Regions from separate parts of the Homo sapiens genome. Here region 1 is linked to region 2. Evidence: fine-mapped expression QTL. A gene starts in region 2. The other region holds a variant in brackets. All regions are shown on one strand. Distances are between the middles of the regions. Region 1 has its middle 14 kb from the start of ANKRD18B. Region 2 holds the start of NOL6 (nucleolar protein 6).

Region 1 (5,385 bases), 37 kb after region 2:
GCACTTTGGGAGGCCGAGGCGGGTGGAACACGAGGTCAAGAGATCGAGACCATCCTGGCCAACATTGTGAAACCCCACCTCTACTAAAAATACAAAAATTAGCTGGGCATGGTGGCACACGCCTGTAGTCCCAGCCACTCGGGAGGCTGAGGCAGGAGAATCACTTGAACCCAGGAGGCGGAGGTTGCAGTGAGCCAAGATCACGCCACTGCACTCCAGCCTGGGTGACAGTGCGAGACTGTCTCAAAAAAAAAAATAAAATAAAATAAAGAAAAGAAAAAAACAAAGCCAGACTAAGTAGAGAGAGCATGTTAAGTGTTTCCATATAGTTTTTTACTTCTAATGGTAAGTTTATCTGTGGTTTAAATGCTAAAAGGCTAATTTAACCAATTTTAAGTGATCTCATATCTGCGATCAATATGAAATGTAATTACGGTGAGAAAAACAGGTATTGGGTTTCTGTAATTAACTTGAGATTAACATTAACAAAATTCAGCTTTGGTATTTAAGACAGAAATAGGTAAGTTTATAAAACCATAATTTAATACTTACTAATTTTTGTCCTCCTATAAAAGTTTCTAGAGCAGCAGCATAGTTTTTTAAATGGTATTCACATATCCTGCATGAACATATTTAAAACAAATTAACACACATACAAGATCTGGAAAATAGCCTTCTTTCTAAATGAAAACATCTTAGTATTTTCTATTGTTGAAAGAAAAAATTTATTTTTAAGTATATGTTAGTAAGCCAAGAGACTTTCTAAAATACTGTTAACATCTAGTACAATTTCCAGTAAAATTCAATTTTAGAACTTACTTCAGAAGGAATTTCACTTTAATTGTACATACCTGCTTATTCCAAAATACATACAAAGGAATTAAAGCAGTTTCTTACTTAAAGAATAAAGTTACACTTATCAACAGAAACAAGTTGGGATATAAAGCACATAGATACAGAGCTTTCACACCATTAAGCGTAGCCCATTCAGCTTGGTTGAAGAATAGGATGTCCTCTAGTCAGTTAAATATGGTAAATTCCAAATTTTAAATAAAAAAAGAATGTGAAATCCATCAGTTTCATCTATACCTTGCAGTTATTTCAATCATCGCTATTTTTAAATATATTAAGTATAGATCTCCATCACATACTATGGTTAACAAAATAATAGAACTATAACTTCATATTTAAAATTGAATCATATCTCTGCTATAAATACAGAATTTTACTACTTATAAAGCTTACACTGAACTCATTCAACAAATTACACATCTCCTATTTACAGTCCAAGCTCAACAAAAAGAGTAGCTATTGCATACCCTTTTCTCAGCACAGCAGTGGAATTATTTGGATTGAATTCGCGAGACTTCTTTGCATCAGCAACAGCAACTATGTAGAAAAAGATGCGTTTCTGGCTGGGCATGGCGGCTCACGCGTGTAATCCCAGCACTTTGGGAGGCCGAGGCAGGTGGATCACGAGGTCAAGAAATCGAGACCAGCCTGGCTAACACAGTGAAACCCCGTCTCTATGAAAAAAAAAATTAAAAATTAGCCGGATGCAGTGGCACGCGCCTGTAGTCCTAGCTACTCAGGAGGCTGAGGCAGGAGAATCGCTTGAACCTGGGAGGCAGAGGTTGCAGTGAGCCAAGACTGCGCCACTGTACTCCAGCCTGGGCAACAGAGTGAGACTCCGTCTCAAAAAAAAAAAAAGAAAGAAAGAAAAAGATGTTTTTTGTCAGTTATTTACAGATTCTAGCAAACACACACAGAATACTGATCAGTTTTAGATTTCCAAGTTTTCGAGTTAATAGAAACGCCAAATGGTTTTAAATTAGGAAAAGCTAATCCAACACAGAATTCAAATAAATATTACTCTTGTACCTTCCTTTTGGCTTAACATTTAGCTTTCTTCTTAAAGCTCTTCGGTCAGTGAATAAAGCTGTGTGACAAAATTCATCTCCTTTTCTCATTAGCATCACTTATGTAATTTGGCGGGGTGCAGTGGCTCCCGCCTGTAATCCCAGCACTCTGAGAGGCTGAGGTGGGTGGATCACCTGTGGTCAGGAGTTTGAGACCAGCCTGGCCAACATGGTGAAACCCCCTCTCTGCTAAAAATACAAAATTAGCCAGGCATAGTGGCATACACCTGTAGTCCCAGCTACCTGGGAGGCTGAAGCAGGAGAATCACTTGAACCTAGGAGGCAGAGGCTGCAGTGAGATGAGATTGTGCCACTGCACTCCAGCCTAGGCAATAAGAGCAAAACTCCATCTAAAAAAAAAAAGATATTCAGTTTTTCCCTATCCAGATTCTTCATCAGAATAATTTTTAAAGTTACACAGTACAGGAATACATTATTTTTTTAATATAGATAGGGTCTTGCTATGTTGTCCAGGCTAGACTCGAACTCTTGGGCTCATGTGATCCTCCCGCTTTGGCCTCCCAAAGTGCTGGGATTACAGGCGTGAGCCACCATGCCACATTCTTTTTTATAAAAAAATACAAAGAAGAGCATGTCATTTTAATACTCTGTTAAACAGTAAATGTGATACTATTCTTTATCAGCCTACTCAATAACTACGAATGAAACCTATATACATTATCCACCCACTGAACGAAAAAAGAGACATCCATAAAATTTAAATAGGTGTTGCTCAACATGTCTGTCACACTTGAGCTACTTTACCTTGTATGAAAGACCAACTCAAAAATCCTCAAAGACAACCTTTATTTTATTTGATTAATTGGTCATGGGTAAAATGTATAAGTAACTTATTAAAAAGGGGCAATATACTTTATAAGAAAAATTACCACAGTAATTCCCAAGAAGAATGTGACAATAAGCTCTTTGACGATAATATATGTGCATCATCTGGTTTCTGTTCCAAAGCCTTAGTCAGCTCCTACAAAAACAAACATGTTGAGTGTCAGTAAAAGTTTTTTAAAAGCCATCAAATAAATTCTAATTAAAACATCATTTTTAAACAAATAACTTATGATCAGAAACTACTTGGAGGAAAGATAACAGGGATGTAATCTTGGAGTTTTTCCTCGTAAGAGGATCTCCCCGGTTTCTCGCGGTCCTGCTAAAACGCTGTCAACCTAACGCTCCACCAGAGAGGCCCGTTGGCTTCTCGGGAGGCGACCGAGGGAGCTCAGGAGGCGGGGAGGCTTTTACAAGAAGCGAAAGGACGGCCTCAGGGGTGGCCGGGAACAGCCTGGAATCAGCTGGAGGACATCAGCAGGACTGAGGAAAGGGCCACCACCAGCGTGAGGAAAG[G/C]GGGGAGAGGGCAGAACGCGGCGAATGGCCGCGCTCGAGGGCTGGCGGGGTCCCAGCGAGCAGCGGCTGGGAAACAATGGCGCGAGCGTGACGTGGGCCGGAGGCGCCGCCGCGGCGCGGAGGAAGGGGCTGCCGTGGGACTGTAGAGTCTGTAGAGTCTTTTGGAATTTATGTGATTACAATCTTGCAGTCTGTGAATAGAGATGGTTTAACTTTCCTGTAATCTTTATACCTTTTAGTTTTGTTGCTGGCTAGTATGTCCACTATTGAATAGAAATAGTGATAATGGACTTCCTTGTCTTGGTTGTAAAATCAAGAGGAAAGCATTCAATATCAAGTGCTTTTTCTACCTTTATTGAAATGTTCATATGTATTTTTAATAATAATATGTTACTGTTATATAATAATAATTTTAAAATAATATTTTAATAATAATGTTACAATGTGACCAATTACATTGGTTAATTTTCAAATGTTATCTAAATGGCCGGTTGTCCTTCCGGATCCCCATTGATTCCGATTGGGATGACACTATAGGAGAGGCAGAACCAGTGAAGGAAACATAACGTTTATTCAGGAGTTACATACAGGGGTGGTCCAGTGGTGGTGGGCTGGCCTGGAGAAACGCTACCGTTTGTATAAAAAAAAAAAAGCATGTAGTCCATATAGCATATCGCATTTTCACTTAGAACCCTCCTTCTAGCAGTCTCCATTTAACCCAAAATAAAGGGCCTTGATCACCTGTACAGGCTGTGTTCCAAGGGATGGGGCAGGGGTATGGCTGTCCTTCATAGGTAAGTAGTGAATCTCAGTGTTGGCTACTCCTGGATTCCTTAGCCTGGGACTCCAAACACACTTAGAATAGGGTTATTCTCAGGTATGCTCCATTTATGGCTCAGCCATACACCAAGGTGTATACACCAACCCCTGCCATGCACCAATATGCATATAAATATGAATAGCCTCTGAAAGGGCAAATTCCTAGATTGACCTATAGGCCCACATGAAAAGTTCTATATTAATAGCTATGTCATGGCTGAGCACAGTGGCTCATGCCTGTAATCTCAACACTTTGGGAGGTCGAGGCGGGTGGATCCCTTGAGGCCAGGAGTTGGAGACCAGCCTGGGCAACATGACAAAACCCCATCTCTACTAAAAATACAAAAATTACCTGGGCTTGGTGGTGCACACCTATAATCCCAGCTACTAAGGAGGCCAAGGCACAGGAAACACTTGAACCTGGGAGGCAGAGGTTGCAGTGAGCGAGATGGCACCACTGCACTCCAGCCTGGGCAACAGAGTCAGACTCTGTCTCAAAAAAAAAAAAAAAATAGCTGTATCGTGGACATTGAAATTATAATGAGATAATAAAACTACCACCAGAATGACTTAAATTAAAAGGATTTCCAATACCAAGCATTGACAAGGATAGGAGCATTTTTTAGAGAGAATGACCAAGGAGTTGGCTACAGTCAGGTGCTGCAGAATCAGATCTGTGGACCTTAATGTGCATCTGGTGAAATAAATAACTATAATGGTGAAGAACAAAGCAATTGCCCAGGAATCCTACTGTGGTCTGAGATAAGAAGATCATTCCTATTGCCACATCCCTGGAGGCCATTTTTCTTTTTTCAATGACTGATCATCCTATTCAGAGTGAGAGGATCTGGCGTGAAAACAAGAGGCCTGTTGTACTATGGCAACTGAAAGCCACTCTTTTCCATGTACCATTGTTTTCAAGCCATTAATTTCCTATTAAACTTCATTTTCCTCTTCCTGAGAGTTTCGCTATAAAAATATATGTGTGTATAGATATATATTCCCAGCATAAGAGTGCTGTAACAGTGTTTTACATAGAACTTTTACAACAATTCTTTGAAGTGCTTTATTGTTCCCATTTGACAGGTGAGGTGATTTCGGGCACAGGAAGGCTGAATGACATTTCCAAAGTCACCTCCTTGTAAGAGGCAGTGTCAGAAGCTGACAATGGACTTGACCACTATGCTGTCATAGCAACAGAGAGAAATAATTTTTAAGACAATCCATGTATTTAAAAAATATTTTTGTATCTCTTGTGAGTTTTTAAAAGAATCGTTTTGAATTTTTT
Region 2 (5,385 bases):
ATCACTGTTCTGCAAAATAAAATCCAGCAGTGGCTCCCCATCTCACCCAGAGCAACAGCCAAAGTCCCTACTTCGGGACACAATGCCCTGCATGATATGCTACTTTTCCCCATCACCTTTCTGAACTCATCTCCTTCTGTATTCCTCATTCATTCCAAGGAATGTAACTGGAACATTCCTGCCTTTGTGCCTTTGTACTGGCTGTTCCCCCTTCCTGGAATGCTTTTATTCCCTTAGATATCTATATAGCTGACTCACCTACTTCAAGTCTTTACACAAATGTCACTTCAATAAGGCCTACTTTGTGAACACCCCCTTTAAACTTGTAAACCACTCCCATCCTCTAATACTCCCAATCCCCTTACATTGCTCGTCCTACTTTTTCCTTTTTCCAGTGTTTACCACATTCTAACATTGCCATAGAGTTTACCTGTTATGCTTATCTATTAACTATAACCTCAGCATTACAGCATAGGCTATTATTTACTGATATATCCTAAGAACACAAATACTGCAAGGCATGGAAGTACTTGCTGAATGAATACACAAATGACCACGCTCCCAGCTAAGCTTCCTTGCTGTGAGAATGAGCTCCCTGCACCCCAACCCTTAAACAGAGTAACAGCAAGGCCCCTGTTTGATATACCCCCACTGGAGGTCTCTCTTGGGCTTCCCAGTTCCCCAGGCCACTTGCTTACCTCTGTCTCAGGGACTGAGGGCACCCTCACAACCCGCTGGTTGACCTCCCGTAGGAAGGCATCAATCCGATCCTTCTTCTTCTCTGACAGCCTTACTTCCTTTAGTAGCTCCTCTACCTGTAAGAGAGGGTAGAAGACAGTCCATCAGCCTCAGGGTCCCAGGTACACACCTCGAACAAAAGCTGCAGACACTCAACAGTACCTGTAAACGAAGCAAGCTGGAGTGGAACAAGATCTCAGTCTCCCGAAGGCGATTAAGCTCCTCATTGGTAGGCTCCTTGTACAGTTCTGCCCTGCTGAGCTTCACTGGCTGCAGGAGGCCCTTCGCTGGAGGTTCAGCCAATGTACGCTTCCTGGAGGATGCTTTCTTCCCCTCTTTGCCTGTGCCTTCCAGGGCTGGTTCCATCACCTGTGGCCAGTGAGGGAGAAGCCATTTTGAGGTAATAGGTATCTAGCATCTGCTGCCTAAAGTGCCACCATGATAGGTTGTGGGTAAAAGCTTCACCTGCTCTGTCCCTCTTTTGAGTAGGAGTCAGATTTTGTAAAACTCAGGAGAATCGTTACTTGGATGAACATCACTGAGCGCTGAGCCGAAAATTCCTTGAGTTAAGAGCTCTCCTGTCTACCTGACACCACAAGCATGGAGCTCTGTTTGGAATTGGTAGTGATAGAAGCTGACTGGGCCCAGGCTGGACACGGTGGCTGACGCCTGTAATCCCAGCAGTTTGGGAGGTGGAGCTGGGCGGATCAGCTGAAGTCAGGAGTTCGAAATCAGCCTGGCCAACATGGGGAAACTCCGTCTCTATTAAAAATACAAAAATTAGCCAGGTGTGGTGGCACATGCCTGTAATCTCAGCTACGCGGGAGACTGAGGCAGGAAAATCACTTGAACCCAGGAGGCAGAGGCTGAAGTGAGCCGAGATCGTGCCATTGCATTCTAGCCTGGGCAACAGAGCAAGACTGTCAAAAAAAAAAAAAAAAAAAAGAAGCTGACTGAGCCCTGCCCTAAGTAATGCCCAGGCCCCTTGTATTTTCAGGAAGTTTCCTCTTCTGCTGATATAGGCCTGGGACTTCTCAAATGTCTTTCCCATTCTCGCTCCAACCAAATCCTGCCAGGTTCCACCTCCTCTAGGAAGACCTGACTGCCTCAGTTTACACTAAATACTCACTGATGGAAGGAGCTAGAACCGACTGGACCCCAGAGGACACATTTAGCAAGTCATTAAATCCTCAAAATAATTCTTGAAGACACTTGAAGTCCCACTATTCACTCGAGGTTCCACAACTGGTACACCCGTACTATGAGCAGGCTTCAAAGGCAAGCGTGCAGGATCCCAAACCTTTTCCCCTACAGCCGTGGGCCCATCCGCTCCACGATGCCTCTCATCCCAGAGAGCCTTACTGGAGCGCTCCAGGAGAGGCACCGTATGCCCTCCGCTACAGCGGGGAGCACAGAACTGGACACAAATTCTGTGGAGGAAGATCCCGCTTATCGTCAAGGACCACCAAATAAAAGAAACGACCCAAGTGTGGGTCTCTTCAACTTTGAGGTGCAGAGCTCCAGAAGAGAGCAGAGGCTCTACCGGCTTCACTGCTTCTAACCAAATACTGCCAGGTTCCATCACCCCTAGCAAGCCCTGTCTCAGTGCCACTGGCTGGAAACATCCTCCAGAATGGGCCGCCGGCATGGCTTTCACCCGCAAGCTGTCAGATCACGCCATCTCGGGCCCTGCAGCCAAGGGAGCGCACATTGAGCCTCTGTTCCTCCCCGATGGCTCAACCCACCTCTGGCTCTCCAGTCGCTCCGCGAAGCTGCTCTCCAGCTGGCGCCGGCCCCATCACTCAGGGTCCAGCACTCTCCCGCACTTCAGATTCTAGCCGGGTCTATACCTCATAGCTTCCCACGTGGGCGGAAATGCCTAACTCCAGGCCCAAGTCCAGCCCACCCCAATTCCTCAGGACTCCACCCACTCCAGAGCTATTGGATTATCAGTCGATTACTCGCTTGCCATTGGCCGGGCAGTCTCAAGGCCCGCCCATTAGGGGAGGGGACAAACGGGTTTCTGTGCTTTACGGCCTCTTCGCGACGCTAGAACGGAAGCCTGCCCGTAGCTAGGCCTTTGCTTTCTTTTCCTCACTTCCTTCGCGTGGCTGCAATCGGGAAGGGCGGAGCTAGTTTGTTCCTTTTGGTCAGGTTTGTTTACAGCAGTTATTCCTCCCTTTTTCTTTATTTGCTACACCTTATCAGTTAACAAATCTTGTCAGTTCTACCTCCAAAACATACCTTGAATTTATTCATTTTTCTGTGTCTTCACTGCCAGGTTTAGCCCGTCACATCATCTTGTTCCCGAATTATTGTTATGACTTTTCTCCAGTTTTTACTTATTACTTAGCTTATTACAATTTCAAGTAATTTAGTTATTTTTATTTATTTATTTATTTATTTATTTATTTATTTATTTATTTATTTTTGGAGTAGTCTTGCTCTGTCGCCCAGGCTGGAGTGCAGTGGCACGATCTCAGCTCCCTGCATCCTCCCTCTCCCAGGCTCAAGCGATTCTCGTGCCTCAGCCTCCTGAGGAGCTGGGATTACAGGCAGGTACCATCACACCCGTCTAATTTTTGTATTTTCACTAGAGATGGGGTTTCCTCATGTTGCCTAGGCTGGTCTCAAACTCCTGACTGCCAGTGACCCGCCCACCTTGGCCTCCCGAAATGCTGGGATTACAGGCCTGAGCCACTGCTCCCGGCCTATTTTTAAACTATTAAAAATTTAAAACAAATGTTGCAAGAATAATATAATGAATGCGCATATACTCTTCACCTAGATTCACTTAGTGTTACTATTTTGCCAAGTTTATCTTTACCTATGTATTTACATATTATTTTGCAAAACCATTTGAAAACCAATCACACATCTCCCTAAATACTTAGGTATGTATCTACTAAGATCAAGGACTACCTCTTATGTAAGCACAGCCCGATTATGAAATTAAGGAAATTTAATCGTGATTCAATACTAGTATACAAATTCCATCTTTAAATTTTGTCAGTTATTCCAGTAATAACCGTTATATGTTTCATTTTATTTCCTAATGCAGGATCATCTAAATTCAACTATTACCATATAATATATATATATATATATATATATATATATATATATATATTTTTTTTTTTTTTTTTTTTTTTTTTTTTTGAGAGAGAGTGAGTGTCCCTCTGTTGCCCAGGCTAGAGTGCAGTGGGTCGATCTCAGCTTACTGCAACATCCACCTCCTGGTTCAATTGATTATTGTGGCTCAGCTTCCCAAGTAGCTGGGATTACAGGCATGCGCCAACACACCAGGCCAATTTTTGTATTTTTAGTAGAGACAGAGTTTCACCATGATGGCCAGCCTGATCTCAAACTCTGGCCTCAAGTGATCTGCCCTCCTCAGTCTCCCAAAATGCTGGGATTACAGGGGTGAGCCACCGTGCCCAGTCTAAAAATTTGTATTGAAGTACAATATACATAAGGAAAAATGTACATATCCCAAGTGTAAAGCTTGAATACTAACAAACCAAACATACTCATATAGTCAGCTCCCAGAAAATAAGCAGAACATTTCCTGCACCTTCAGAATCTCCCCTCATGCTGCCCTCTAGTAACTCTGCCCCCAACAATCACTATTCTGACTTCAAACAGTGCAGGTCAGTTTATACAATAGCTTTTTTATTATTTATTATTTATTTATTTATTTATTTTTTGAGACAGAGTCTCACTCTGTCGCCCAGGCCGGAGTGCAGTGGCACGATCTCGGCTCACTGCAAGCTCCACCTCCCGGGTTCAAGTGATTCTCCTGCCTCAGCCTGCCAAGTAGCTGGGACTACAGGCGCCCGCCACCACGCCCGGCTAATTTTTTGTATTTTTTAGTAGAGACGGGGTTTCACCGTGTTAGCCAGGATGGTCTTGATCTCCTGACCTCATGATCCACCCGCCTTGGCCTCTGAAAGTGCTAGGATTACAGGCGTGAGCCACCGCGCCCGGCTATGCGATAGCTTTTTAAGGAAGTTTCAGAAGAGCGGTATGTCCATTTTCAATTCATTTTCCACACAGCTGCCAGAATTAGTTTTCTAAAATAGAAATTCTATCATGTCACTTCCTTTTAAAAACTCATCAGTGTCTTCCAATTGTACTTAAAACTAAACACAAACTTCAACTTCCATAAAGTCATGATCAATATGGCCCTTCACTTGCTATTCCTTCTTTTTATTTTATTTTATTTTTTTTTTTTTGCGACAGAGTCTTGCTCTGTCACCCAGGCTGGAGTGCAGAGGTGCAATCTTAGATCACTGCAACCTCCGCCTCCCAGATTCAAGCGATTCTCTTGCCTCAGCCTCCCTAGTAGAGTAGCTGGGACTACAGGCACATGCCACCACACCCGGCTAATTTTTGTATTTTTAGTAAAGACAAGGTTTCACCATGTTGGCTAGGCTGGTCTCAAACTCCTGACCTCAAGTGATCCGCTCACCTCAGCCTCCAAAAGTGCTGGGATTACAGGGGTGAGCCACCTTGCCCAGCTATTCCATCTTTTTTGTGGGAGAAGAGGGGCAAGTTCTCGCTCTGTTGCCTAGGCTAGAATACAGTGGTGGAATCACACCTCAGCCTCCTGAGTAATTGAGACTACACACGCGCACCACCATGCCT

Evidence for each region. PIP is the estimated chance that this variant, and not a neighbour inherited with it, causes the effect.
Region 1: its variant is fine-mapped to the expression of NOL6 in gastroesophageal junction (GTEx, PIP 0.95). The same link has a PIP of 0.9 or more in esophagus muscle.

The regions. Positions count from the first base shown.
Region 1 is chr9:33,507,811-33,513,195 of GRCh38, forward strand. It overlaps the pseudogene SUGT1P1 and the pseudogene VN1R47P. Among named protein-coding and RNA genes, the nearest start is that of ANKRD18B, 14 kb to the right of the region's middle. The variant G/C (reference allele first, on the strand shown) is at 3,279.
Region 2 is chr9:33,471,306-33,476,690 of GRCh38, forward strand. It overlaps NOL6 (nucleolar protein 6), which reads right to left and starts at 2,619. Exons shown (of 26, transcript NM_022917.5): 1 at 2,484-2,619; 2 at 901-1,107; 3 at 699-815. The coding sequence starts at 2,537. It overlaps LOC107987061 (a long non-coding RNA gene), which reads left to right and starts at 2,835. Exons shown (of 3, transcript XR_001746648.3): 1 at 2,835-2,892. RefSeq lists an enhancer at 2,231-2,570.